Linked DNA regions of Homo sapiens: region 1 is linked to region 2. The links come from fine-mapping of genetic effects on gene expression. A gene starts in region 2. The other region holds a variant in brackets. All regions are shown on one strand. Distances are from middle to middle.

Region 1 (3,016 bases), 46 kb before region 2:
CATATGTGGTGAGTGCTATTATTTTCTTCATTTTATTGATGAAGAAACTGAGCTCAGAGAGGTTTAAAGATGTGCCTGAGTTAGTAAGTAGTAGAGTTGGATTCAAACCAGTGATCTCTAGCAGTTGAGGAAAAGTCCATGAGAACATGACTCTCAAAAAACAATTAGTGCTTGAGTCCAGGAGTTGGAGACCAGTCTGGGCAACATAGGAGACGCTGTCTCTACAAATAATTTTAAAAATTAGCCAGGTGTCATGGCCCACACTTGTGGTCCCAGCTACTTAGGAGGCTGAGGTGGGAGGATCACCTGAGTCTGGGAGGTCAAGGCTGCAGTGAGCTGTTATTGCGCCATTGCACTCCAGCCTGGACAACAGAGCAAGACCCCACCCTGTAAATTAGGTATTTCCTGGTATGAAGGCTGGAGGAGATGAGTGAGGGTAGGGCAGTCCTGGAAAGAGAGAAGATGGCGCAAGGGTTTGGGAGACAGGATCCCTGGGGTCTGTTAGGGATGCAGGGAGCAATTGGTAGAGCACTGGGTGACGGGTGGGGTGGAGAGGGGAGAGAAGGCTGCAGAAGCAGCAGGGCCCAGAGCACAGGCCCCTTGTGTCCTATTGAGGAATGGCAGGTTTGTTTCATGAAAGGCACTTAAGCAGGAGAGTGACAGGATCAGATGGGCATTTCAGCACAATTGTTCTGGCGGCAGTGAGGATTAGAGAAAAGGAGGCAGGAAACTATTTGTCTCTGTCTCGGGAGACCAGGAAAGTAATCCCGTTCCTGAGAATTTAGCCTGGAGAAACTCTCAAACATCTGTTCAAAAACAGCAATGCTCCACTGTTTGTATTAGCAAAAAACCCTAAATGTTCTTCCACAGAGAATAAATAAATAGATTGTAGTATAGAGCCATAATAGAATACCATATGGTAGTTAACATGAATGAATTAGGGCAACATGTGGCAAAAAGAAGAAAAAACAAAATTGAGTGAAGGAAGCAGGCTGCAGAGAATATATACAGTATGACGTTATTTTAGTAAAGTTTAAAAACCTACAAAGTGCACTTTGAATTGTTTATGAACATATAAATGTCTACAGAAAATATTAACATACGTGAGATTGATAATAGCAAATTCATGAGAATGCCCTGGGAAAGGGGGACTCAGGGACTAGGGGACGAGCTAGTCAAGGTGGGTTTCAATACCTATATTTTTATATAATATGTATTAATACATATGTAGTAAGTAAGTAGTGGAGCTGGATTCAAACCAGTGACCTCTGGCAGTTGAAATATACATTAAATACATAAATTTATATATATTTCTTTAAATAAACTGGCAAACATGACATGATAATGTTGAGATGTTGATAAAACTAGTAGAACACAATTGTTTATTATTCTCTGAACTCAATTGTATATTTGAAACAGATTATGTCATTTTTAAAAAGTGAAGCTTGGACCCAAAAGCAAAAGAACAAAGAGGAAGAAAGAAAAGAAAGCAAGCACTCTGGAAGCAGTGCAGCCCAAGACAGGGAGCTGGGCGATAGACCCCGAGATGTCCTCCAAGAAGTGGCGTGAACTGGTGCAGTGGCAGCAGGAAAGGGAGGCCGTGGGAAGCAGGTGGACTGTTGGGTCATGGGAAGTGGGGGAGGC[G/A]GTGGAATCCAAATGACTCCCAGCATTTTGGCTGGTGTGGCTGAGTGGGTGGACAAGCCAATCACCAAGAAAGGGAATGTAGGAGAAGTAACAGGTTTGGCTGGGTTGTGATGCACAAAGATCAGTTTCAGACTTGTTCAGTTTGACATTCTTCCAGGAAGAAACATCCAATATGCAATCTGATTTTTAGGCTGGGGGTTCAAGGTCTGGGACAGAAATAGAAATTTGGTCATCATCAGCATTTGGGGGAAATCATGATCATTATGAGATTATAAGTCTTAATTTAACAAAAATGCACATATATACTATGCATAACAATTAAAATGTTTTGTTTTGCTTGTTTTTGTTTTTTAAAGAGACAGGGTCTTGCTCTGTTGTCCAGGCTGGAGTGCAGTGGTGCTGTCATAGCTTGCTGCAGCTTTGGACTCCTGGGCTCAAGTGATCCTCTCACCTCAGCCTCCTGAGTGGCTGGGACTACAGGCACGAACTACCATGCCTGTCTAATTTTTAAATTTTTTGTAGAGATGGAGTCTTGCTATGTTGTCCAGGCTGGTCTTGAACTTCTGGCCTCAAGTGACTTTCCTGCCTTGGCCTCCCAAAGTGCTGGAATTATGGGGGTGAGCCACAGCACCTGGCTAAAATATATTTTAATGGAAGATGAGCTCAGGTACAAGAAGTATCATATGTAAGTAAAATACTAATTCTGACTTTTACTCATTGTATTGGAAATTCTAAAAGTAGTAACCTGCCCCATTACCTATGATGTGGAGTATTGTGTGGTCTGAAGGAACTTAATAATGATCCACCAGCAAAAAGACATTGCCAAATCACCAATGGGAAACCAACCTGATGTTGGCAACCCAGCTAATGCTCAGAATCACCAGGGTAATCTACAAAAGTGATGCAGAATTCAGACTGACTGAACCAGAATCCTGGGGGCGGGGCCTAAGAATCAGATTTTTGAAAAGCTCCATAATCAGGCTGGTCATTGGTTGGGTGTAGGAGATGCGGTAACAGTTCCTGGACAGCAGTCGCCATCTGCCTTGGTGGGGTCTGTCTGCCTCTGTGTGATGCTCCACTGGGACCTTGGAAAAATCATTTCAACTCTTTGTTTTTTGGTTTGTTTATCTATAAATGGGGGTAAAAATAGTACCTACTCTTGGGTTAGCTGTAAGGATTAAATGAATTAATTTATGTCAACTACTTATAATAGGGTCTGGCACAATAGTATAAACATGCCATAAAAGATAGTTACTAGTTTTTATTAACATATATGCCACAAGTGCACTGGCACACCATTTCTGCTACTATTTTTGTTAACAAAAATATTCTAATAATATTTTTTAAAAGAATAATAGTCTATACTTGAGTC
Region 2 (2,500 bases):
TTGTAAGCTAATCAAGAGCCCTTAAACTCCATTACATAAATGATACACTTACCCTTTGTATTAAGGGACTAACGGCTTCGCTTTTCAACAAAGCTGGATCTTCTGGCACACGCTCAGAAGATAGCCAGTACTTCAGAGACAGATTGCTTTGAGGGCACTGGAACCGCTGAGGGGCAGAGTAATCCTAATGAGAAAGAAAAAAGAGGACGCCTCTGGAGTTAAAATAAGACAATGCATCTGTGGAGAACACGGTGACTGAAGACTGGCAGAATTCTCAATATCTCAGGCCACTATACACTGCGCAGTTTTCATTTGTATTTTGGAGGTGCTCTAGAAAACTTAGAAATGATTAGAATAAAAAGTATGGATACTTTTAACCAGCCCATGTACAGGAAATTCTGTTGGTGTAGAAACGGTTCTGCTGTTCATTCCTTAACTGCTTCTGTTCCCACTTTGTCAGATGTAGGGCGAGGTGGTGGTGGTGAGTCCTAATTTTTTCTATCTCTATCCACAGTCTGGAATCGTTAGGATTATTTTAAGCCTTCATAACATTTGCGGACAGCTTGGAGTGTTTTGTACATGTAGTGGGGCAGTGCCTGGCCTCCTGTGAGAGATTGATCATCGGTAAACAATCCACACGAAACTCACTTGCCAGTGGACGGGGAGGATCGCTGCCATCCTTTCAGCAAAGAGCAAACGAATAAGGAGAGATCCGGGCCCATCCCTCCTCGCGCAGCAGTTTCTAGATTTTTACCCCGGCTTCATAAATGGCTACCAGCTGGCAGTCACAACACTTTCATAATGTTTGCACACAACTCATTTGGGTCGCTTTCTTTTCTTTCCTTTTTTTTTTTTTTTTTTTGAGAGAAACGGAGAGTCTTACTCTCTCGCCCAGGCTGGAGTGCAGTGGCGAGATCTCGGCTCACTGCAACCTCCGCCTCCTAGATTCCTGCGATTCTCCTGTCTCAGCTTCCCAAGTAGCTGGGGCTACAGGCGTGCGCCACTATGCCCAGCTAATTTTTTGTACTTTTTTTGGCAGAGACGGGTTTTACTATATGTTGGCCAGGCTGGTCTCGAACTCCTGACCTCAGGTGATCCGCCTGCCTTGGCCTCCCAAAGTACTGGGGTTACAGGCGTGAACCACCGCGCCCGACCATTATTTGGGTCGCTTTCTAATTTCTTTCTCCGTTTGTAGCTAGCGTTGCCCGAAGGAGATTTCAGAGAGATCCCCTGGAGAAAGGGACGGGGGATGTCGTTTTCCAGTAATTTCTGGGGGAAATCTGGGATAGTCAGGGGGTAAATCTAGTGCCGTTTGCTGAAGTTAAAAGGCGTGGGGAGCCAGGTGGTGCCCTGGAGGGAGGGCCGCGCGAGACGAGACCAACCTTCGGGACAGGGGAGAGCGGGGCTACTGAACGCAGGGGATTCCGCTGAGCCTCCAGCCCCTGAGCGTCCACCTTCGGCCCAGCTGGGGGACGCGGTCTCGGGAAGAAAGCCCGGAATCCCGAGCCGGCCAGCCGCGAGCAGCGAGTACCGGAGCGCGTGGGCAGGCGCGCGGAGGCAGAGGCGGGCCGGCGGCTGTCCCTTTAAGGGGCCGGTCTCCCGGCGCCGCCGGCCCAGACGCCAGGACGTGCCGGGTCCGCCCCGCCCCGCCCCGAAGCCGCCCGTTTCCTGCCGAGCGGCGCGACGGCACCTGAGCGACTGCGGCGGCGGCGGCGGCGGCGGCGGCGCCTCGGAGCGGGCGGCCCGGGCTGTAGTGCCGGCGCCGCCGCGTCTTCCCGGTCTCCTTTCCCGGCCGCACAGGGTGAGGGAGAGCAGGCCGCACCGGGACGGGCGCCGGCGGCGGGGAGCGCGGGGGGAGGCGGCGCCGGCCGCGGGGTCCTGGGGCAGGCGGGAGGGCCGCGCCGGGCGGGGGGGCGCGGCCGCGGGGCCCGGACGCCGCCCGCTGGGTAGGCCTCGGGCATCCGGTTGCCGCCGCGGGGCTCTTGTTGGGGCCGGGACGCCGCAGGGGGCGGGCTCGGAGGGACCTCCTCGGCCTCGCGGGGCCGCTCTGGGCCCGACCCCGGCTCTGTCGCGGCACCCGGGGCGCGGCCGAGGGACACCCCCCACCCTCCCCAAGGACGACTCTCCCGAAGGCGAGGTCGACCCGAGCGGGCCCTGGGGTGACCGAGGCACCTATTTTTAGCCAAGCCTGAGGGCCCCCGGGAGGGAAGGCGGATTACCGCCTCCTCGGCCGGTGGACGGAGGCAGCGCGTCTCCGGCGGCGTCCCCGGGCCGGAGCTGGGCCACACTTACGCCATGCTGGAGTTCCAGTCCTCGCCGCTGCCTCCGGCGGTCTGGGCGCTCGCCCCCTTCCCCGGCGCCCCTCCCGCTGCCCTTTGCGAGTCCCCAGGTCAGGGCGGGAGGCGGTTGGGCACGGAAAGCAGCATGAGGGGGGACTTTGGAAAAATCCATGGACCACTCTCGACACCGGCGAAGTTATCCCTTCCTGTCCCCGAGGGGT

Which allele goes with the higher level. Alleles are on the strand shown, and positions count from the first base shown. SD is a standard deviation of normalised expression in the study named.
With allele A in place of G in region 1, the expression in skeletal muscle of the gene that starts at base 1,539 in region 2 is higher (moderate effect, 0.56 SD a copy in FUSION).

What was found. PIP is the estimated chance that this variant, and not a neighbour inherited with it, causes the effect.
Region 1: its variant is fine-mapped to the expression of KTN1-AS1 in skeletal muscle (FUSION, PIP 0.95).

Annotation. Positions count from the first base shown.
Region 1 is chr14:55,532,476-55,535,491 of GRCh38, forward strand. No RefSeq gene overlaps it. Among named protein-coding and RNA genes, the nearest start is that of KTN1-AS1, 46 kb to the right of the region's middle. The variant G/A (reference allele first, on the strand shown) is at 1,645.
Region 2 is chr14:55,578,554-55,581,053 of GRCh38, forward strand. It overlaps KTN1-AS1 (KTN1 antisense RNA 1), which reads right to left and starts at 1,539. Exons shown (of 3, transcript NR_027123.1): 1 at 1,383-1,539; 2 at 53-184. KTN1 (kinectin 1) reads left to right here and starts at 1,654. Exons shown (of 44, transcript NM_001079521.2): 1 at 1,654-1,801. RefSeq lists enhancers at 879-998, 1,009-1,098 and silencers at 1,539-1,798, 1,859-2,498.